3 separate regions of the Homo sapiens genome follow, and regions 2 and 3 are each linked to region 1. The links come from fine-mapping of genetic effects on gene expression. A gene starts in region 1. Each other region holds a variant in brackets. All regions are shown on one strand. Distances are between the middles of the regions. Region 1 holds the start of ADAMTSL2 (ADAMTS like 2). Region 2 holds the start of LOC102723855 (a long non-coding RNA gene). Region 3 overlaps ADAMTSL2 (ADAMTS like 2).

Region 1 (7,407 bases):
TGAGCTCCCCCAGCTCGAGCTTTCAGCGTTGGCCTAACAGAAAACGCCAGTGCTCCTGGCTGAGAAAGAAGGAGGAAGAGGAGGAGGAGAAACCAAGTTCTGTGGTCCGGCACCAGCTGGTCACCCCTGGGGGCTGCAGTCCCCTCCTCAGGGCAGGCTCTGATCGGGGGCATAGGTGTACCACCCAGGGATGTCCATTCTCCACCCGTGGGCTGAGCCACAGCAGGGTTGATGTTGGCAGGGAGCACTCCCAGAGGGGAATCGGAGTCCTGTGTGTGTGCTGGGAGGACGGAGAGCAGGCCAGCCCAGACCCACACCTCTCAGTGAACCAAAGGCTGCTCCTGACCCCTTTGCAGGCCCTGCGTCCCTGTTGGTCCCAGCCTCTTGTCTGCCCCAGCTTGCCTCTCTACGTGGAAACTTGCCCCTCTTGGGCACCACATCCCTGGGCTTGCAGGGAAAGGAGAAGCTGAGTCAGGGCTCGCAAGGCCCTGGGCTCCAGGAACAGCAGTGGAGGCCATCGGGGAGGGTCCCGCTGCTGGTCCTGGTGGGGAGGCTGAGCACGTCCTGCTGCTCTGGGCTCTCCTGGGACCCAGGTGCACCCCATCCTGGACCAATGACAGGCACCCCATCCTAGCCCCAGACATCTCACAGGCACACTCGAGAGACAATGTGAGAAAGTTGGCCAGGCTGAGAAAGTCCACTTGGACTCAGGCGGGGTCCAAGCCTTGGCCTCAGCTTCCTTCTCTGTCTGGGCGTGGCAGTGTTACCTGATGTGGCATTGTCAGGATGGAGGATGACAGCAGAGTAGACACTGGCCCCGGGCTACCCTTTGGGCTCAGAGCAAAGCACGTGCAGCCCTTCCTTTCTCCACCACCATCCCAGGCCCTTCTCCCATATGGACTCATTTCAGCCTCACAAGAGTCCAGCATGGGGAGTGCCTTATCACCGCCACTTTACAGGTGAGGAAGCTGAGGCACAGAGAAGCTTCTGCCCTCGCCCAAAGTCACCCAGCTGGAGAGAGACGGAGTCAGGATTTGAACCCAAAGAGTCCGGTTCCAGGCACTCACGCGTGAGGCTGCTGTTGCTGTGCTATTGGAAGAGCTGCTGCTTCCTATGCTGAGCCTCCACGCTAAGCCTCTGAGACGGGGCCCTTCTGAGTGTCGGGATCCAAGGTCCTGGGTTTCCTGCTTCACCTGGCTGTGACACCAGTGGCTGCCCGCCCCTGGTCACTGTGGGTGGCATGGAAGAAAGAGCTCACTGGCTTGGTGATGTCCTCCTGCCCCCAGCAGATATCCCTGACACGGGGCATCTCTGGAGGTCATGGCCGTGTGCGAGCAGAGCCCGAGGGGCTGCTGGGGGCTGGGGTTCTTCCGGTCCGCCAGCTTTCAGATGATGCTTCCAGGAGTCCTGGTGCCCAGAAGGGGCCTCAGGGCTGCTGGGGAGAAGAGGGGAAGCAGGAGCCCCCACCTCTGCTTTTGTCTCAGTTGTCTCTTGAGTGTGCCTGTGAGATGTCTGGGGCTAAAAAAGGACCTTGACCTTGTGCAACAGACCAGGAAACTCGGCCTGTCAGGGACAAGTGGCCTGAAGTGACCTGGCCAGCCAGTGGTCGTGCATGGACCTGGGACCAGCCAGGGAAGGCGGGGGAGGCTCTTCCCGTATATCCAGCCCCAGGGGGGTCTCAGGGACAGCTGGCTTCTATCCTGGGCCAGGAAGGAAGCTCGGGGACAGGGACGGCTCTTGGGGTTGCTGAGGCCCCCTCGCTCTTTCCCTGGGGCTGCCTTCTGAGTCCTGGTCCTCTTCCGGGGCTGCCAGCCACCTCCCAGCTGGCCACATGGTCCCTTGGTGGCCCCGTCCCAGTCAGGTGTGAGAACTCTGGCTGGGTCTGCCCAGGAGGCTCCTAGGATGTTCTGGGTCCTGGGCTGGCAACAGAGAAGAACCGCAGGATGCCAGGGAAGGTGGTATTGGTGGGCCACTCTTGAGGCTGTGGCCGGCCAGCCCTATCGGCTAGGTGAACCACACTACACACATACATTTGCCAGGCCTGCTAGGCCTCTGGGTGACAGAGAGGGGACCCACCTCGACAGCTCGGGCCACGTCCTTAAACTCCCGAGCCTGCTGTGGCCACTTTGCTGTGAGGACAGGCCCTGCTCCCACTGCGGCAGCCTAACATCCTCCCCAGGGAACCTCCAAAGTGGTCAGCCACGGCCCACCAGCCCCTCTGCCTCAAGCCTGCTTCTCTATCCCCGCCGTGTTTTCCCTGGAACCCCACCCTCCCGGGCATCCCCCACACATATTCCTGCTGTCCTATTTCTAAGCTCCTCAGATATCTGGAAAACACTGGCGGAGAAAATCCCCTTCTTTTTTTTCTCTCTCTTTTTTTCTTTTTGAGACGGAATCTCACTCTTTCACCCAGACTGGAGGGCAGCGGCGAGATCTCGGCTCACTGCAACCTCCACCTCCCAGGTTCAAGCAATTCTCCTGCCTCAGCCTTCCGAGTAGCTGGGATTACAGGTGCCCGCCACCACGCCCAGCTAATTTTTGTATTTTTAGTAGAGACAGGATTTTACCATGTTGGCCATGCTGGTCTCAAACTCCTGACCTCGTGTGATCCCCCTGCTTCAGCCTCTCAAACTGCTGGGATTATAGGCATGAGCCACTGCGCCTGGCCAACAATCCCCTTCTAAAGGCAGGTGGTGTCTCCAGCACCAGGGCCATACGGCTGCAACACCCCTACAAGTGCCGGTAGGTGTGGGCTGAGACCATCCTACATGGGGAAGGCCCTGAGAGGCCGGGAATTTGCAGGCCGAAGAGGGATCCTGGAGAGTGGGGGACTCACCTCAACAGCACTCTCTAAGGGGTAAGGAGCCCCTGGCATCAGGAGCTACCAGAGCACCTGCTACGTGCCAGTCATGGCTCCCTGTGGGCCTCAAGTCTGCAGGCTCTGGGGTAAGGGGTGGGGGTGGTGTGGAAGTGTGGCTGGCCAGGGGAGCTGGGGCCTGGAGGGTCACACACCTGCAGGAGGTCACAGAGCCAGGGGATGGCTGGCCCCACAGACCCGTCTCCCAGGTGGCCAGCCTGCAGCCTGTGCCGTCCTGCTGAGCCAAGAGAAGACACTGGGGGTGTTTGTGTTGGTCGGCTGTGGGGTCCCTCCCAAGGGAAACCGTTAGTCACCCTGGCGCTGGCTGGATGTGAGGCCACAAACGCCAGGAGAGCTCGGGGACTGTGCCAAGGGGTGCGAGGCCTGGCGGTCACCAGAAGAGAGAGGAAGGGGATGGCAGAGGCACCCAGAGCGAGTGTAATCCGGTCATGTGAGAGGGACTGGGTGTGTGTGTGCCTGTGTGTGTGTGTGTGTGTGTGTGTGTGTGTGTGCTGGGTGACAGGTGCCACCATGTCTGTGATTCAGCACAGCGACCCCAGGGGGCAGTGTGGGCCTGGGTTAGGGTTAGGGTTAGTCCTGGTTCCACACCGCAGGTGGCCCTGTGACTAGGAGCAGCCACCTTGCATCCCAGTTGCCCCAGCAGGAGAATGAGATGAATAAGACTTGCCTGCCCGAGGGTCCCGGGGAGAGAAACTTAAACAACCCGGCAGAGGAGAGAACCCGACACTCAGGAGCGCTGGCATCCCAGCCTTGCCTACTGGAGAGGTGACTTGGTCCCCGAACCTCAGTTCTTCCACCTGTGAAATGCAGATCATAAAGGTGGATCTGGCCTCACAGCTCTGGGCCCGTAGGACAAGCTGGACAGAGGGCAGACGGTATTATCGCTTTCACTACTATTACTGGTGGCTTTCCTTCCCAGCCTTTCTGGTGGGTGGTCAGACACAGGGCAGAACTTTCTCATGAAGGCAGCTGAAGGAACTCACAAGTTTCTTCCAGCAGGGAGGACAGAGGGAAGGAGAAGTGTCTTCCCGGCACTGCTGTGGGCCCAGGACATCTGCTGCATGGAGGCAGGGGCATGGATGAAAAGACACAGATGACCTGATGGAATGGTGCCCCAGCTTCCTCCTCCTCCCCTTTTTGGAGGTGCCTCTGTTTGCCGAGGATGGGCTCTGGGGAAGCTGGTGTGCAGAGGCTAGGTGCCCAGCCTTGCTTTAGGAAAGCCTCACAAAGTCTGGGGCCCGCCGGGAGTTTCCCAGGGGGGCTCTGCTGCTCCACCCACTCTCGCTCCCCTCTGTGCCCTGACTCAGCAGGAACAGAGGCTTGAGCTCCAGGCCTGGCCTGCCAGGGGCTGCCAAGTTGGTGCTGGACATCTGCAGAATCCCTGAGCCTCTCTGCCCTGGCCCTGGCTGCTCTAGCCATCTGGTCAGCAGGCCACGGGCACATCTGTCTCCTCCCTGGAGCCCTTGGTTCATTCTCGCTGGGTCTCCCTGCGTCCCTCCACCTGCTTAGGCCCCTGCATCTCGGGAGCTTTCTGAGGCTCGTGACCTGGGGCACGGTCGTCCCGGAAGTTCAGCCTTTCCCTCCGTACAACGGAGCCATCAGACGGGACACCTCATACATCCCAGACCCCATTCTCAGGAGCCCCAGGGACAGGGCCCGCTCTGGAGGCAGAAGCCGGACAGGCGGGGCTGGGGCTTTGCCACCGCCAGCCTCCCCGGTAACCTCAGGCCAGCGGCTGCTCCGTCTGGACACCCGACATGTGGCCCCCAGTTCTGGACCCGGGAAGAAGGCCTCCCTGCTCGCCGCTCCTGGGCCGCCGCCGCCGGCAGCAGCCAACAGGCAGCTGGGCCGGCCTGGCCGGGCTCCAGAGGCGCAGAGCGGGTTAAAGTGTGCGCCAGGCCGGCCGGCGCGGGCGGGGGAGCGGCCTGGTGGGAAGTGTGAGTGTTCCTCCCCGTCTGCCTGACAGCTATAAAGGCGGCCGCCGGCGCAGAGCCGCCACTGGGCTGCGCCCCTCCCGGGAACCCCCTCTCTTGGATGCTCTTTGAAGTGGGAGAGGGAGGCGGCGCGGGGGAGGAGGGGAAGGGGAGAGGGAGGCCGGGCCGCAGCCTCTGCACTCACGCCGCCCCCGCACGCACAGCGCACCTGGCGCCGTCTGCCCTCCGCAGCGCTCGCCCCTTTCTCTGGGAGGACAACCTGCTGACCCGAAGCCAGGTAGGCCACCTCGTCCCCGTCCCCCTCACGTTGCAGCGTCCACCAGGCCAGCCCACTGCTCAGAGTGGGGCTGGGGGTAGGAGCACCCCGCGCCCTCTGGAGCCGTTACATAACGTGGGGAGGCTTGTGGGGAGGGGTCGGGCCGCAGAGCACGGGGCAGGGTGGCCTCCCAGCACCTAGCCTTGTGCGCCCGGAGCTCTGTGTGCACGGCAGACCTCTCTGCTGCCGCCAGCCGCTGCTTTTGGACCCCAGGGAGGGATGGATCCCCGTGAGCGAGGCCTGGCCAGAAGCCAGTGGTGTCTGGAAGCCTTAATGAAAAAAGCAAGTGTGAGGCCGGCTGGCACCTGTCTTCAGCCGGCAGGCAGAGGCTGGGGCACCCGTTAGCCAATGGCACAGTGGAGGGGGCTCCTGTGGGTGTGAGGCTGAGAGTGCAGATGGAGGTCTGCAGGGGAGGGAGGTGGGGGGCAGGCGGCGGGGGCAGGGGAGGTCAGACTCAGGCTCCCCACTCCAGGGTGCACTGCTGCGTCGTCCGGGCTGCAGTGGTGTCCTTGGAGTGGCCCCTGAAAATCTGCAGGTGCCGGGCCTGCAAGGAAACTCTTCAAGTTGGATGGAGGCTGCTGAGGAGGGAGGGGCAGAGCCCGAGTTGGCCTCTGGCCTGGCAGGGGTGAGGGGTGACCTCCATGCCTTCTTCCCCTGGAATTGGCCAGGCGTGGGGGTCGAGTCCCTGAGTTTGCTAGTGTGCTACCTTGCTGTGTGGCTTTGAGCAGGTTGGCTCCCCTCTCTGGGCTCCAGGTTATGAGTGCAGGCTGCGTGGTTTCTGAAATCCCTTCTCTAACTCGCTGGCAAGTGACCCTCAGCACCTGAGCAAGGCCTGGACAGAGGTCATGGTGGATCTCTGGTCTTCCCTTCCACAGGGCAGGGTCGACGCTGAGGAGGGGGTGGGGAGAGCTGAGGGCCTGGAGGCTGGACAGTCCCTTCCAATGGGCTTGCTTTGACCCCTGGCAGGTGTTTTGAGCCAAGGGTGCTGGCTGTTGGGAGGAAGTCAGCCTTGTGGCCCTGGACTGCTGACATGCTGGCACAAACTGCACCTCCTCCTGCCCTGCCCCTCCCCCAATTCCATCTTCTCTCCGGGGATCGGGAGGCGGCATAGGTACCTGGGTTCTGCCTCACCTGAGTGCCGGCTGTTGCTGGATGCTGACTGTGGAGCTGCTGGTCTAGGGCGAGGCTGCACATTCCCCCGGGACCTGGCCAAGCCCATCCCCATGCACTGACCCTAGCAGCCAGTGGCAGAGGCCATTCTCCTGCGAGGCCAGCAAGAGCTGAGCCAGTTAAAATCCCAAGGTGCTCCTGCCAAGGCGCTGGACTGAGCCCAGGCCCATCCCTTCGAACCAGAGCCTTTCCCCCCGCCTGGGTCCCCAGCCCCCTCAGCCGAGGCTGGCTGTCTCCACAGCCCTTCTCTAGGGGGCTTGAGGACTTGGAGGCAAAGCATGGCATGCTTCCCTGCATGCCCTTGGATCAAGGGTGGCACAGGCTTAGCACGCACACCGCCGCTGGGTGTCTTGCCTGAAGCAGGCATTACTAATCATTCACCAAGCTCCTTCTTGCTAAGCCTAGACTGAGGCGGGGGGTTCATCCTTCCCAACAGGGTCTGCCAGACAACCACGACCAACTAGTCCCAGATAACCTTGAGGCCTGGGCACTGGCTGGGCCCCGAGGGCTCTTCCCAAAGCGTACCCTGGTCATCTGGAAGAGGATCGGAGCTGGCCTGGTGGTGACAGTGGCCTTGCTTCCTAGGATGGATGGCAGATGGCAATGTTCCTGCTGGGCCTGGTTCCTGCTGGTTCTGGCAGTTGTAGCTGGGGACACAGTGTCAACCGGGTCCACGGTGAGTGGGGTGTTGTGGTCTGAGGGCCCATGCCAGTCCCCTACCCAGGTGCTGTGATCACTCTCAGATGGACTGGCTTGGAGGGAGCCGTGTGGGCACGTGCCCCAGGTCCCAGAACCCATCTTGGCTCCTAGAAACTTCTGCCCAGAGCCAGTCAGATCAGCCTCTGAACTGGGGCCCTGGCTACTGTGGAGCCCCTGGCGACTTGGCAGGCGAGGGCTGAGGGGGCTGAGTGCTTCCCTTCCAAGTGAAGGCCCCAGCACGGCCAGGGTAGGCTGTGTCCTGCAGAACGCAGTTGGGCCCTGAGCTGCTCCGGGGAAAGTGAGGACAGTTAGATGCGGCCCCAGGAGCTTGCCAAGCCCCCAGGCCATCCTGGACCTTAAGGTCAAGGAGGACCCGTGGCCCACGGTTCCTTGGGAGTTCCCCCCAGCGC
Region 2 (7,407 bases), 45 kb before region 1:
GCCTCCCCGAGGAAGGCCCCAGGGGGGTGGGTCCTGCAGAGGGAAGCTCGAGGGGGTGCACTCAGCTGCCACTGTCCGCCGCCTGTCCCTGGGGAGCATGGCAGCTGAGGGCAGGCCCCTCCCAGGACATGGGACCCCCCATGGCTGGAAGGTGACTGGGCCTTGCACACCCAGCTGGGGTAAGAGGGAGGGGCCTGGAGTCCAGCTTGGGGGCAGGATCTGGAGGGGGCTGGGTGGAGCATCCCTGGCGGTGGTTTGCTGGTCCAGGGCGCTGGGGCTTAAATGATCTGGTCCAGACTCTGCCCTGTTGCGGGGGAGGGCTGGGGCCTGGCACTTGGAAGCTGTTTCCCAGGTCTCCACGGGGGCTGCCATAGGGGCCTCTGCCAATCTCCGGGGCTTCTCAGGAGCCACTGGTCCGCTAAGCCTCACTTTTCTCATCTGTAGGATGGATGCCACCTGTGCCCACCTCACCGCTGCCGTGCAGGGGGAGGGCAGCTGGCCGCGTTGATGCAGTTTGACAAAGGTCCCTCCAGACCAGTCTGACAGCTTCCCAGTTCCCCGGAAACGGGCCAAGCTGCATTCCAGGCCTGGCACCAGGGCCGAGGTCTCCGAGGGGACAGTAGGGCTGCCGTGTCTTGGGAAGGTGGGAGGCGGGGAGCAGATGCCGGGAATACTCATCCCACTCTGGGGGTCTTCTTCACCCCTGTTTTATGGAGGAGAAGACTGAAGCTCAGAGCTGCTGCCCAGGGTCACTTCTAGGTCACCTCATGCCCCCTGCTTTGGCCTATGCAACCCACATCAGGCCTTCCTGAGGGAGCAGACCAGAGGGACAGCAGAGGGTGGGCAGGTGGGGCCTTCCCCGAGGAGGTCCTGCCCCTTGCCTCCTCCTTCCCACAGATGGGCTGCCCAGGGCCCCCAGGGGAGAAGGTCTCTGGCACCCAGCTGTCCGGTGTCCCCAACGTCCCCAGAGATGTCCCTGGTGATGACCCTGAAGACTCGGACCTGGTGCCTTCCGTGACCCTGGCGCCTTCCGTGACCCTGGCTGCAGCCCTTGTCCTGCTGTTCCTCCTGCTCTCGGCCTGGCTGGTGTGGGACGGACCTTGCCAAAGCTGCTGCTAATGTGGGCTCCAGGAAAGTGTTGGGGGCCTGGGCCTGGCACGGAGTTAGGGGAGGCACAGCGGGGCCTCCCAGCGACACCCTGGGCTGCACTCCATTCCACCCTTTCCCAAAGCAGCCCCAACGGGACCCCAAGACTCCCCAGCGGGGCCCCTGGGTGGCACCGGACTCTGCCATTGCAGGCAGGGGGCGTGCTCCTGGGGACGGCCCCGGATGTTGGGCTGAGAGCCTCGCGCAGCCCCGGCGCTCAGGCAGATCGGGCTCAAATCCACTTCCTCTCCAGGCTGGCTGCAGGACCTTGGCCCCGTCTGAATCTTTGCAAGGCCCTTTTGGGTATCGCAGTTAAAGCCAAGTGACCCCTAGGTACTGGTGAAATGAGCGGGTGAGTTGGAAGATGGGGGTTCTAGTCCAGGCTCTGCCCGTGCTGGGCTGTGACATGGGCAGGTGCCTTTTCCCACCTGGATCCTGGTTTCCCTGGTCATCCAATGGGGCTCACAATACCCCACTTCTGGGCCCTGTTGGGAAGGCAGGTGCCGTGGGAGGCTGGGGCTGGGCCAGGCGGGTGCCCTGGTCTTTGCTGCCACCTGGTGGCTACAGATAGAATCGCATCGTCTGCTGCATGGTGCCCTCTGGGTAGTCCAGGCCAGGGCTGAGGAGCTGAAGGCTTTTTATGTTTTGGTGCAGAACATTTTGAGATTGTGGATGTGGATAAGCACAAATCCTGTTACCCAGAGAGAACAGATTTTTAACATTTTCTATTTATCTTCTTTCCCCATCTCCATATCTATAATCTCCTTAACAAAATCATAGGGCGGAGGTAAGTTGTGAGCCGGGCTCTAGAGTCAGAGAATGCTGCCTGTGGCCCTGGCCCAGGGCCCTGATGCTCTTTTGTGCCGCAACAGCTCCCTCCCTGACCTCGACATAGGAAGCAGGGAAGCATTTTTAGGGCTGGGAGGAGTGTGGGAGACCTTCGGGCTGGAAGGTCTCCTGGAGGCTCCAAGACCCCCCACCGCCGTCTCTCACGGAACAAGTACTTGTCAAGATTTCTACTGTGGGCCGGGTGCGGTGGCTCAAGCCTGTAATCCCAGCACTTTGGGAGGCCGAGGCAGGTGGATCATCTGAGGTCAGGAGTTCGAGACCAGCCTGACCAACATGGAGAAACCCCGTCTCTACTAAAAATACAAAATTAGTTGGGCATGGTGGCGGCCACCTGAAGTCCCAGCTACTCAGGAGGCTGAAGCAGGAGAATTGCTTGAACCCAGGAGGCAGAAGTTGCGGTGAGCCGAGATTGAGCCATTGCACTCCAGCCTGAGCAAAAGAGTGAAACTCCGTCTCAAAAAAAAAAAGAAAAAAAAAATTTCTACTGTGAGCCAGCCCCTGCGGGGAAACAGGGTAAACAGGATCCCTGACGGAGCTGGGGTATGACCAGGAATGGGAAGGCTGGACTCACTGCAGCATGCTGGGGCTGGGCTGGGTAAGTAGGGCCTGCAGGAAGGGGCAGATGAGCTCTAGGGTGTAGGAGGAGTAGGCCAGGGCCGGGGTCCCCAGGGAGGCTGTTCCAGGCAGAGGAACAGACTATGGGGAGTTCAGAAGTCACTCTGTGTTCTTCTGCACCAGCTACTGCTCCCCTCAGGGAACTGGAGGCCTCTGGAGCCTCCGAGAAGCAGCCACCGAGAAGGGGCAAGTGAGCGGCAAGGCCGTGGTTCCACATTCCCAAACCACGCTTTGTCCTTCCTGGGGTCCCCGTAGGTGGGGCTCTTCTCCCTCCTCCAGCTTTCTGAAGCCAAAGTACACACCTCGGTGTCCATGATGGGGCAGCCGGGGGGCTGTACGCTTCCTCTGTCTCTGTCTCTGGGCAGACCATAGTCCAGCGTGCTGCCCCTACTGCCCTGGAAAAGCCGAGCCGGGAAGCGAGCGGTGGCTTTAGAGGCGTCGTGCAGAGGGGGAGACGGAGGTAGAGCCTGGAGGTTTGGGGCACCTCCTGAAGCAGTGGGGTGGCCTTTCAGGTGGGGGGACTGAGAGAGCAAAGGCCTACAGGCTAGACCGGGGCCTCCCTGAGCTGTCATAAGCAGGACAGGACGTGGGGGCGCGCCACGGA[G/A]CCGCCTCCCTCCCCTGCCCATCCTGCCTGCTACAGGAAGGGCACACCCGGAGAAAGGAGGGAGGCCGGTTCCTGGCAGAGCAATGTTGAGGCTGATCCTCCCTGCTTCCCCCCACAAGCCTCTCTGTGAGCCTCCTCCCTGTCCCGCACACCCACCTGGGGGATGCCGCAGATTCTCAGAATCAGGCTCTACATGGCCCCAAGCAGCACATGGCCTGGCGGAGGCAGCAAGCATGGCCGCCGGAGCCTCTGGCCTTCTGCCCAGGGAGCAGGGGCCCCTTGGGGGCTGTTCTCTCTGCTCCCTCTGTCATGTCCCCTCTCTGTTGGTGGAGGAGAGTGGCTGCAGGCAGGCGCCTGACTCCCCCAGCTCCACACGGCTCCAGCTTTCTCTGCCTCTCCGTGTTCACCCCTCAACGCATCTTGTCAAATGGAGACCTCGAAGGCTGGGTGCAGTGGCTCAGGCCTGTAATCCCAGCACTTTGGGAGGCCGAGGCAGGTGGATTGCTTGAGGACAGGAGTTCGAGACCAGCCTGGGCAACATGGCTAAACCCCGTCTCTACAAACAATTTAAAAATTAGCTCGGTGTGGTGGCACACGCCTGTAATCCCAGCTACTCAGGAGGCTAAGGCAGGAGAATCGCTTGAACTCAGGAGGTGGAGGTTGCAGTGAGCTGAGATCACGCCACTGCACTCCAGCCTGGGTGACAGAGCAAGACTTTGTCTCAAAAAAAAAAAAAAAGAAGAAGAAGTAAAAATGGAGACCCTGAGACCCAGCTTCTGAGGTCGGGGGGTGGAGTTAGTAACTCACAGTACGGGCTGGTAGAGTCTGCCAGGGTGGTCTGGGCTGGGCTGTTGGGGATTTCAAACCCACGTCCCTCTTCGCATCCCGTCAGAGGCTGCCCGAGGCAGAGGCAGAACCTGCGGCTTCTTCCTCCCAAGTGCTGAGATCAGGTCCGAAAGTTCCAGTCATTCGCACTCCTAGAAGTGGCTTCCAGCCTTGGCCCAGGAGCCATCAGGACCAGGGACGAGGGCTGCAGGGAAGCCCAGGTACGCAGGCCGAGGAGCCCATGTCTGCCCCAGAGCAGGGCAGCAGGAGGATGGCCTCTGGCCCTTGCCACCCTGGGCCTCAGCCCTGCCTGCAGGCCCAGTGCTAACGAGAAACGCAGGCCGACCAGGGCAGTGTATGCCTGCTCTGTGCGTTTGTATTTCTGACCAGCGCCCATGAGAAGGCTGTGTGGTTTCCAATGCATTTCCAGGGGCCAACTCATTCCACCCGCCTAGCTCTGGTGGCTCCTGCAGGCCAAGCCCTCGCAGAGAGGGCCTGGGGTGAGAGCAGGCATCTCCGTGCAGCTTGGCCAGGAAGGAATCGCATCCGCAAGGAAAATATTGTTCTGTATAATTCAGTGGCCCGTTTTATAAACATTGTGGTTCTACCTTGGGGTTTTTCCCGCCTTGTCTCCTACCTCCCCTCCCCACCTTCCAGGGGCTGCTGGGCAGCCAGATGCCTGAGGTTAGGAAAGTATGTGCTTTTGCCGGGCTAGACAGTGCAAAGGGTGACAGGGTGGGCCTGGGGACGGGGCTCAGCCAGCCAGAGAGAGTTCTGGGGTGGGGTTGGCAGGACTGCAGCTCAAGCTGGTTTGCAAAGAGGTGTGAGAGCAGGCAGCCCGCCAGAGCGTGTGTGCGTGTGTGTGTGTCTCTGTGTAGGGATGTGCCTATGTGTGTTTGCCTGTGTGTGTGCCCGTGTGTGTGCATGTGTATATATGTGTGTTTATGTGTACATGGGTTCTGTGTGTTTGGATGTGTGTCTTTAACCAGGAAGCTGGGTATGGAGTGACACTGGCATCCTTTCTACCAGCCTGGATGTGGGCTGGTGGGTGTCTGCAAGGCCAGGTTAAAGTGGCCCATAGAGGGGCAAGGCAAGCTCCCCCCTCGGGGAAGAGGCTGCTCTGTGCCATTGTTGAGAGAGCGGGCATGGGGACAGATGGACTCCAATCCAGCCTGTATTTCCAGCACTCCCTAGTTGAGTGGCTTTGGGAAAGTCACTCTTCCTCCAGGTCAGTCACCGGGGGCTGTGGGGCTATACTGCCACCTCCATTCCTTTCTGCTTCCTTCTGAAAGGACCCTAATTTTGCTTGGGGATGGCAATGAGCCTTCCCTGCGGCCAGGTGGCCACGTGTCGGTGCAGAGGCCACGAGGGCTAGACAGGAGGGTCTGGGGCAGCTCTTCCTGATTAGAGAGGTAAAGTCTCACTGGAAAACGTTTTGGGTCCTGCCCTCTTTTTCCTGCCTGGAATCCCGTCGCGTGGCCGGGGGAGGCAGCTGCTCACTGGCAACCATGAGGGTGAGACCCAGTCTTGAGGCTGAGACCGAGGCAGGAGGGTGGGACCCACGCTACGCTGCTGGGGAAGGAAGCAGGCAGGGGCTCTCAGGCAGTGTCTGGAGGCTGGATGTCCATGTGGAGTGATGGGGTTGGCTTCTGTTTGCTGCAGCCTCATGCACTCCTGCTGGACACCCGGTGTCACTCTCTCTTCATCTGGGGATTGAGGGACCTGGAGGCTGGAAGGGGCTGGCTCATGGGTGTGCTCTGGATCTAGGCACCCTCCTCACTGCCACACCCTGAGGGGCACTGGGGAATCGTCCTCAGAGGCGTGCAGGGGTGCTGTCGGGACAGTCGGGCCCTACTGCTTCAAGGCTGCAGGAGGAGGATGGGGAGGATCTGGAGGGGGAGGAGGAGCTGGAGAAGGAGAAGCAGGGAGAAGAAGGAGGAGGAGGAGAGGGAGGAGGGGGGGAAGGTGAGGAAGAGGAGCTGGAGGAGGAAGAGGGGAAGGAGGTGCTGGAGGAGGAGGGGAGGGGGAGAAGGAGGAGTTGGAGGAGGATGGAAAGGAGGAGAGGGAGGAGGAAAAGGTGGAGGAGGGAGGAGGAGGAGTTGGGGGAGGAGGATGGAAAGTAGGAGAGGGAGGAGCAAAAGGTGGAGGAGGGAGGAGGAGGAGTTGGGGGAGGAGGAAAGGGAGGAGGACAGTGAGAAGGAGAAGCTGGAGGGGGAGGAGGAAAAGCTGGAGGATGAGGGGGAGGAGGAGTTGGAGGAGGAGGGGGAAGGAGGAGCTAGAGGGAGAGGAGGGGGAGGAGGAGGGGAGGAGGAACTGGAGGAGGACTTGGAGGAGGAGGGAGGGAGGAGGACAGCCTGGGTGGGAAGTTGCACTTGGCCCAGCTCCCAGAGAGGTGGGTGGCTTTAGGTCATGCGTTCATCTGAGACCTAGTACAACCTAGGACCCTGGGGCCCTGTGCCGGTCACTGTGCCTCTTCCAGCCTCGGTATCCTCTGGAAGGTGAGAATGAAAAACACCCAATGACACTCAGACTGGACAGGAGCAGGTACGCAGACAGCAGATGGCCAGGTGCACAGAGGTGTCGCCTGACTTCCTCACCGGGACGGCATGGGGTGGGGCTCCTCCTGCAGGCGAAGCCCGCCCGGGACTGGGCTCTGGTGGGTTCTCTCTCTTTTCCTTCAACCAAAGACCTGGCTGGACACCCCCCATCTGACACTCCGGGGGCTTTCAAGGGGCTTCAGGCAACCCACATGCATTCTGGGCATCCCATTTAGGGGGATGAAGAAGGAATTGGATAAGGCAAGGGTGGGGCTGGCCCGTCTCCTCTGCTGGTGCATCAGCCCCTCCTAGGGACACCACTGTCCTTGACCCCTCTGCAGGCCAATCAGCCCTCCTTGGGAAGCCGCCGTCCTTGCCCGCTCTGCTCCTGGGGTCCCACCCAAGCTTCAATCCTCGCTGTGTGGTCTTCCCTCCGTGAGCCTTCATTTCCTCATCGGTAAAATGGGGGAGAGGAGAGCGCGGGGGTCAGCCCTGAGCCTGGCTGGTTGGCTACTTAATGGGCTTCTGGTACCTTGACCACCATCTTTGACAGCCTCAGTTTACAGATGAGGCCCTGAGGCCTGGAGGAAAGGATTAGGCTGCCTGGGATGTGGGTGAGAGGTCTGATTCTGACCCGGTGAAGTGAGCTCCTGTCCCCTCTGGGGTTCCCCAGCAGGCATTAAGGGAGGGGTCAGACGAGGTCCCCCTACCGTGGCCAGATGTGCAGCGACCTTGGGCTGTAACCTCAGGGGGTTCGCGCCCCCCACAGCCTGCTGGGGACTGACCAGGCCTGGGGGAGACTGGGGGAGCGAGGGGCTGGGAGGGAATACC
Region 3 (7,407 bases), 30 kb after region 1:
CGCCTGGCCCCCACCCCCATTTTTAAAGCTTCCTCTAAGTTCTGAAAGAGGGAGGAGAAGGCACTCTTCCCTTCCCCTTGAGCCCCAGGATGGGACAGACTCTCCTGGCTTGAAGCTCCCAGGTGAAGGAGGCTTTGAAGAAACAGTGGGACCAGCCCCCAGCCCGCAGCCCTTCCTGGGCCTTGGTCCCCATGCCTTCTCCCTTCACTCCTCTTCTCCCTCCCTGAGTTTAGGGAGCCACACCAGTGAACTCACTGCTGAAGCTCCTGTGGGTAGATCATTCCTGGGGCCTCAGATGTGTGGTCAAGGCAGCGTTCATCCCCACAAATACTGCCTGGCTGTGGGATCCTCCCATTCCAGTCCAAGCAAAACAGAAGAGCAATGCTCACCCGCTTGCCTAACACATTGTAAACTCCCCATTCAATCCAAACCCATGTCTGTATCACGGAGTCAATCTGAAAGCCTTTCTGAATATAATGCTCTAAGCCTGACCACCCCCAGGTGACTGAAGGTCCTGAAGAAGGACCTGTGACCTGGCCCACGTTTCAGCCCAGTGAAGTATGGCGGCTTGGGGTCATCTCTAGCCAGCCCCTCTGGGCCCAGAGGAAAGTGGAGTTGGGCAATGCCACCTGCTGCACTGTCCAGTTTAAAAAGGAAGTCGAGGCTCGAAGGACCTGCTGTCCACCGCGCCGGCTTGCCATCGCCCCTTCTCTGGCTCAGGGGCGGCGGGACTCCATGGTGGCGTCCCAGAGCAGATGCCCGGGCTGTGGAGCTGCTGCCGCCTCTGCTTCCCTCCTCCCCTGCCGAGTCCAGAATGAGCCTGCACATTGGATGTGGAGGTTGGGCCCAGGCACACCTACTGGTTCAAAGAAGCAAACAGTCCTAACAATAGTTGGCTTTGGCTGCATAGGCTCCAGCCAAGAATCATAGCTGGTGGCTGGCTGGGACCCAGCGTGCCTCCCCCGACCCCAGCAGGTCCGTGCAGCCATGGCCTGCCTGAATTGCACTGTAGGCTCGGCCCCTGCCAGCAGCCGAGCTTTTTAATTTTGATAATTGGAGGCTGGATGCCTAGTGTCCCCCATTCCATCAGAGTCCCAGCTGGAGGAGGGGGTGGGAGAGAATTCTGGAACATTCTTAGCACATAAGACACCTTCTGAGGTCCCCTCCCCGGTGGGAAGAAGGAACCCACTAGCTGATGTGAGAAGGTAATATTGAGAAGCCTGCGTGTGTGCAGGGAGCAACTACAGTGCTGGGGGCCCCAAATTCTCAGGCCACCCCTCCCCTCCGGAAGGAGCTCGGGCAGCTCCCATGCAGTTGAGATGGAAAACAATGCCAATCAATCCTAAAATGTGCCCCTCTGCGGGCGCCTCATCCGTTCCACTTCAGACAGTGGGAACTCTGACCGTAGCAGGTGGAGGGTCGGCCCGGGGCTCAGGACAGGTGTGTGCTTCAGGCGAACATACCCTCCGAAGAAAACTCCCTCGCCTGAAAAGCCGGAGCCTGCCGGTGGGGCCTGGAGCGTCTCATCACCTTCCCTGCTTGGTCTCGCTTTCAGGACCAGGCCCAAGGCGCGCAAGCAAGGCGTGAGTCCCGCGGACATGTACCGGTGGAAGCTCTCGTCCCACGAGCCCTGCAGTGCCACCTGCACCACAGGTACTGGTCACGGGTGCCAAGGGGCAGCAACTGCCCTGAACCCATTTCCATGGACATGGGCTGGGGCTGTGGGGCCCACCCACTAGCTTGCAGCCCCCAAACTGCCCTCGGGGTGCTTGTCCGTGGCCTCCTGACTTGGGGGCAGTGTGGCGTGATAGGAGTTTGGGTGTCTGGTGAGGCCACCCTCATTCTCACAGTGTGCTAGACCATGGTCAGGTCCAGGCCCCTGGGGGTCATCCGGGCTACCACCCATTGGTGGTAGCCCTTGTCTGTTGCCAGTGATACCATGTTTTGTTAGGGCAAACATCCTTTGGGTTAAAAGTAAGAAATCTTAGGTAGCAGAGATTTTACTTTTGCTTCCAGCAAACATAGGAAGGGAGTCATAGGCCCCTGTGATCTGTGACGAAGGGAAGTAGGCAAATTCTAGGACCTCATCAGCAGGGGAGAAGTTAGGAGGGGAAAAAAGACCCTCCTCGGTGGTGCCTGGACAGACAGATGTGTGTGGTTAGTAAGAGTTGAGCTGGGATTTGAACCCACAGCTGTCTGGTTGCACGGCCACCATCGCCCTGAGACGCTGGCCACAGCCGCTAGAGCTGGAGCTGCCTCTGCTGCCCACTCTAGTACCCTCCCCTGGGGGATGCCGCGAGGTCTGATGTCAAACCCAGGATCAGGATACAGGGCCGTTGATGGGAGAAAATATGGCAGGGAGACCCCAGTGCCGGCTGTGAGGTCACATTTTATCTATTCTTGGGGCTTCATGTTTGGATGTAGAGGATACCCAGCTGGCCCTCAAAAGGTTTGATGCTCCTGGTCCCGCCCCAGTGCCACCCATTTGCCAGGGCATTTGATGCCCTTGCAGTCTCTGGCCAGTGAGGATTCCACACAGCTGGGCAGTCTGAGCTTGGCCGCACCCTCTGCAGCCCTGCTGGCATCTCAGGAGATGGGCCCGAGAGAGGGAGGGGCTGGGGCGGCCCTGCAGGCTCTGCTCACACTGGCCTTGCCTCTCTGGGACTGAAGAAAGGGCTCTGCCTCCTGTTACAAGAGCCCCCAAACAGGGCATAGCCATGGGGCATGCTGTGTTCGCCCCTGCGCCTGGCATCCTGGAGGGAAAAAGCAAGTGCTGTGGGCGGCGTGGCGGGCACCCGGCTCGGCCAGGCTCGCACCGCCGTGGGCGGCGTGGCGGGCACCCGGCTCGGCCAGGCTCGCACCGCCGTGGGCGGCGTGGCGGGCACCCGGCTGGGCCCGGCTCGCACCGCCGTGGGCGGCGTGGCGGGCACCCTGCTGGGCCCGGCTCGCACCGCCGTGGGCGGCGTGGCGGGCACCCGGCTGGGCCCGGTTCGCACCGCCGTGGGCGGCGTGGCGGGCACCGGCTTGGCCAGGCTCGCACCGCCGTGGGCGGCGTGGTGGGCACCCGACTTGGCCAGGCTCGCACCGCCGTGGGCGGCGTGGTGGGCACCGGCTTGGCCAGGCTCGCACCGCTGTGGGCGGCGTGGTGGGCACCGGCTTGGCCAGGCTCGCACCGCTGTGGGCGGCGTGGTGGGCACCCGGCTTGGCCAGGCTCGCACCGCTGTGGGAGGCGTGGTGGGCACCCGGCTTGGCCAGGCTTGCACCGCTGTGGGCGGCGTGGTGGGCACCGGCTTGGCCAGGCTCGCACCGCTGTGGGCGGCGTGGTGGGCACCTGGCTTGGCCAGGCTCGCACCGCTGTGGGCGGCGTGGTGGGCACCGGCTTGGCCAGGCTTGCACCGCCTGGTTGACCACACCATGGGCCCTGGGCAAATTGCCAAAGCCTTCCGAGCCACTGTTTTCCACAGGTGAACTGGGACGCCTGCTTATCTCAAAGGTGGGTTGTGGGGATCCACATGAAACAAGGAATAGCCTCTCATGGTCAGAGGTCAATGGATGCTGCCGTTCTGAGGGTGGCTGCCACCACCTGATGCAGGGTGCGGCTTCCACCATACCCAGGAGCAGCTGGCCTTGGAAGTGAGCCATGTGACCTGCCTTCCGGGCAGACCCCTAGCGGAGCTGAGCATGGTG[G/A]TGGGGTGTCAGCAGGGTGTCTGCTTTGCCAAGTCCTTTGCGGACCTGCCCTGAGTTCCTCCACTCTTCCTGGCCAGGGGACTCCAAGCGTGTGGGCGTTGTCAGTAAGTGTCAAGCCTGTGGGCGTTGTCACTAAGTGTCTGCAAACATCTGTGATTCCTCCCAGACACATCGCTGGCTGGAGAGGGGACGTCGCTCGAGACGTCTGCAGGGTGAGGCAGCCTCGCTGGCAAGGGGCCTGATGGGCAGCCCTGCGTGGAAGATGTCCCCAGGGAGGACACAGCACTGTCTCCCAACACCCAGAGAATGGCAGGGAGGGGGCTGGACTGGGTCTGTGCAGCGTGGCCCAAGGTGCAGTGGGGCAAAGGACAACAGGAAATCAGAAAGACAGGTTTTGGCTTTGGAAGAAGGAAACTCTGCTTTACAGGAGGTTGTTCAGAAATGGAAATGAGCCACCCTGAGAGACAGAGAGAGAGAGAGAGAAAGGGGGAGAGAGAGAGAGAGAGAGAGAGAGGGAGAGAGAGAGAGAGAGAGGGAGAGAGAGAGAGAGAGAGAGGGAGAGAGAGAGAGAAGGGGAGAGAGAGAGAGGGAGAGAGAGAGAGAGAGAGGGAGAGAGAGAGAGAGAGAGGGAGAGAGAGAGGGAGAGAGAGAGAGAGAGGGAGAGAGAGAGAGAAGGGAGAGAGAGAGAGAGAGAGAAAGGGGGAGAGAGACAGAGAGAGAGAAAGGGGGAGAGAGACAGAGAGAAAGGGAGAGAGAGAGAGAGGGAGAGAGAGAGAGAGAGAAAAAGGGGGAGAGAGAGAGAGAGAGAGAGAAAGGGGGAGAGAGACAGAGAGAAAGGGAGAGAGAGAGAGAGGGAGAGAGAGAGAGAGGGAGAGAGAGAGAGGGAGAGGGAGAGAGAGGGAGAGAGAGAGAGAAAGAGGGAGAGAGAGAGGGAGAGAGAGAGAAAGAGGGAGAGAGAGAGGGAGAGAGAGGGAGAGAGAGAGAAAGAGAGAGGGAGAGAGAGAAAGAGAGAGAAAGAGAGAGGGAGAGAGAGAGGGAGAGAGAGGGAGAGAGAGGGAGAGAGAGAGGGAGAGAGAGAGGGAGAGAGAGAGGGAGAGAGAGAGGGAGAGAGAGAGGGAGAGAGAGGGAGAGAGGGAGAGAGAGAGAGGGAGAGAGAGAGGGAGACAGAGAGGGAGAGAGAGAGGGAGAGGGAGAGAGAGAGAGACAGAGAGGGAGAGAGGGAGAGGGAGAGAGAGAGGGAGAGGGAGAGAGAAGGAGAGAGAGAGGGGGAGAGAGAGGGAGAGAGAGAGAGAGAGGGAGAGAGAGAGAGAGGGAGAGAGGGAGAGAGGGAGAGAGAGAGGGAGAGGGAGAGAGAGAGGGAGAGGGAGAGAGAGAGAAGGAGAGAGAGAGAGGGTGAGAGAGAGAGAGAGAAAGGGAGGGCAGGAGGGAGGGAGAGTTCCCTGTCACTGTGGGAGGTGCTGAATGGCACTGGGCAGAAATAACAGAGTCAGGGTCCACCCTTTGCATAGGTTGTGTCCGTGCGGATGTCCCATGGATGGTCATTGGCCCACCCTCCATCCTGTGCCTCGCAAGAACCCAGGCACAGGGCAGTTCTATCAGTGGGGCAGATCAGCCTGCCCTGAGCTTTGGCCGCGGTGGGGAAGCTTGTTTTTAGATTTTTCTTCGAAGACACTCTTTTGGAGCCATAGCAACAGAGGAGCGTGAGTTTGGCCTCGGCTCAGGTCATAGGTGGAAGTTTCTGCTGCCCTTCGGCGCTCCAGGGCACCGTGGTGAGGACAGTGGATCCTGCGGCCCCCAGGCTTCATCCTCCCCTTTCTTTTGTTTCAAGGAGGGGCTCCGTGGCTCAGGGGGTTTGAAAAGCACCGTTTTCGAGATGGGTGTCATGAAGAGGGTGCCCAGAAAAAACGTCCTGGCATTTGATTCTCACAGGCTCTCTGGAAGGTTCCCATTTCGGGAAGGAGCATGCTGAGGCCTGGAGTCTGGTCACGGTCACGTCACCCCAGGGAGGCACTGAGCTGGGACTTGGATTCCAGTCTCTCTTGACCAAGGCCTGCCGCGTTTCCACTCCGTGACGAGGAGCGAATGAATAACCAGGCACTTGGCGATGGTCTGCAAGTCCCCAGCCCCGCACCTCCCTGGGCCCCAGAGCGGGTGTCTCTGAGGCTTGGAACATTCCAAGCAGACCTGGCCGGGAAGCCAGCCTCCCCCTCAGAGAAGGCTAAAGGCTGCACGGCCCAGCTCTGGCGGGAGAGGAACCGTGATTGCAGCCTGGCTCGTCCTTTACGGAAAAAAGAAAAAATCCCCTTGTCGGCTGCTTCCCAGGCTGTTTCGTTCCATCCAGCGCTGGGGCTTGGAGAGGCAGGAGCCGCTGGCCTGCAGACACACGCCGCCGGGCGGCTGGGTTCTCTGGATATGGGGAAACCGATTTCCTTCTGGGGGAACTGGCAGCTGCAGCCAAGACCGTTCCATGATGCCCGTCATCCCGGAAGGCTGGGTCTGTCTCCCGTGGCCACACACACACACACACACACACACACACACACACAGCCACAGCAGAAGCAGCAAACCCTAACCCCACCCCAAGGCCGTTCCCACTGCTGCCGGCTCTCCCAGAATCATCCTGCTCCTGGGCAGGGAGCTGGGCCTGTGTGGCAGTTCGGTACCAGGCAAGGGTGCAGGGGCGAGGACGAAAGAAGCAGAAGGTGGAGATGTGGTCAAGGAAGTGGCACTGCTAGGTGAGGGCTGCCTGTCACCCACTGTCCCCCAGTGGGATTACAGAGTACGGGGCACCAACAAAGACAGGCACACAGTGATGATTAAAGAAAGTTCAGGCCTGGCGCGGTGGCTCACGCATGTAATCCCAGCACTTTGGGAGGCCAAGGCGGGCGGATCACCTGAGGTCAGAAGTTCAAGACCAGCCTGGCCAACATGGTGAAACCCAATTTCCATAAAAATACAAAAATTAGCCGGGTGTGGTGGCACATGCCTGTAATCCCAGCTACTCGGGAGGCTGAGGCAGGAGAATTGCTTGAACCCAGGAGGGGGAGGTTGCAGTGAGCTGAGATTGCACCATTGCACTACAGCCTGGGCCACGGAGTGAGGCTCCATCTCAAAAAAAGAAAGTTCAAGAGGATGCTTGCTAAGGACTGGGGCATGCCACAGAGGGCAGGGCGCGCCCGAACCCCCACCATGACCTCTGAGGAGGCTGACGGGGCTGGAGCCGTCAGATGTCACTCCCGCCTGCCTGTCCACCCAGGGATGGGTGGTTGCTGAACGCCTGGCGATGGGGGACACCTGACTGTGTTTGCCTCTGCACCTCCACGGGGGCCAGCTGGAGCAGACTCAAAGCCCGGACTCCGTGACATGGGAACTGGGAGCCCAGCTGGGTTGGGTGGGGCGGGGTGGGGGTGCAAAGAGAAGAGCTCAGACCCGCACAGCTCAGACCCACAGTGCTGCCCTCATGCCACAGTTGCACAAGCTGTGACTGATCCCCAAGCCAGAAAGCTGAGCTGAGAGGTCAGGTGACTTGCCCCAAGTCCTGAGGCCTGTCTGCTGGGCTCCAAGGTGCCGGCATGGCTCACAGACCCACCCCTGTCCCCAACCCAGGGGTCATGTCTGCGTACGCCATGTGTGTCCGCTATGATGGCGTCGAGGTGGATGACAGCTACTGTGACGCCCTGACCCGTCCCGAGCCTGTCCACGAGTTCTGCGCTGGGAGGG

The links. PIP is the estimated chance that this variant, and not a neighbour inherited with it, causes the effect.
Region 2: its variant is fine-mapped to the expression of ADAMTSL2 in whole blood (TOPMed, PIP above 0.99). The same link has a PIP of 0.9 or more in blood mononuclear cells.
Region 3: its variant is fine-mapped to the expression of ADAMTSL2 in lung (TOPMed, PIP above 0.99).

Annotation. Positions count from the first base shown.
Region 1 is chr9:133,529,829-133,537,235 of GRCh38, forward strand. It overlaps ADAMTSL2 (ADAMTS like 2), which reads left to right and starts at 4,876. Exons shown (of 19, transcript NM_014694.4): 1 at 4,876-5,089; 2 at 6,735-6,974. The coding sequence starts at 6,885. RefSeq lists enhancers at 3,741-4,282, 4,283-4,822, 4,823-5,364, 5,905-6,446, 6,987-7,407 and 1 more and a silencer at 3,393-3,482.
Region 2 is chr9:133,484,794-133,492,200 of GRCh38, forward strand. It overlaps LOC102723855 (a long non-coding RNA gene), which reads left to right and starts at 6,918. Exons shown (of 3, transcript XR_428608.4): 1 at 6,918-7,407. RefSeq lists enhancers at 1-90, 606-1,121, 1,122-1,636. The variant G/A (reference allele first, on the strand shown) is at 3,215.
Region 3 is chr9:133,559,643-133,567,049 of GRCh38, forward strand. ADAMTSL2 (ADAMTS like 2) reads left to right here. Exons shown (of 19, transcript NM_014694.4): 12 at 1,556-1,653; 13 at 7,294-7,407. Among named protein-coding and RNA genes, the nearest start is that of ADAMTSL2, 29 kb to the left of the region's middle. The variant G/A (reference allele first, on the strand shown) is at 3,688.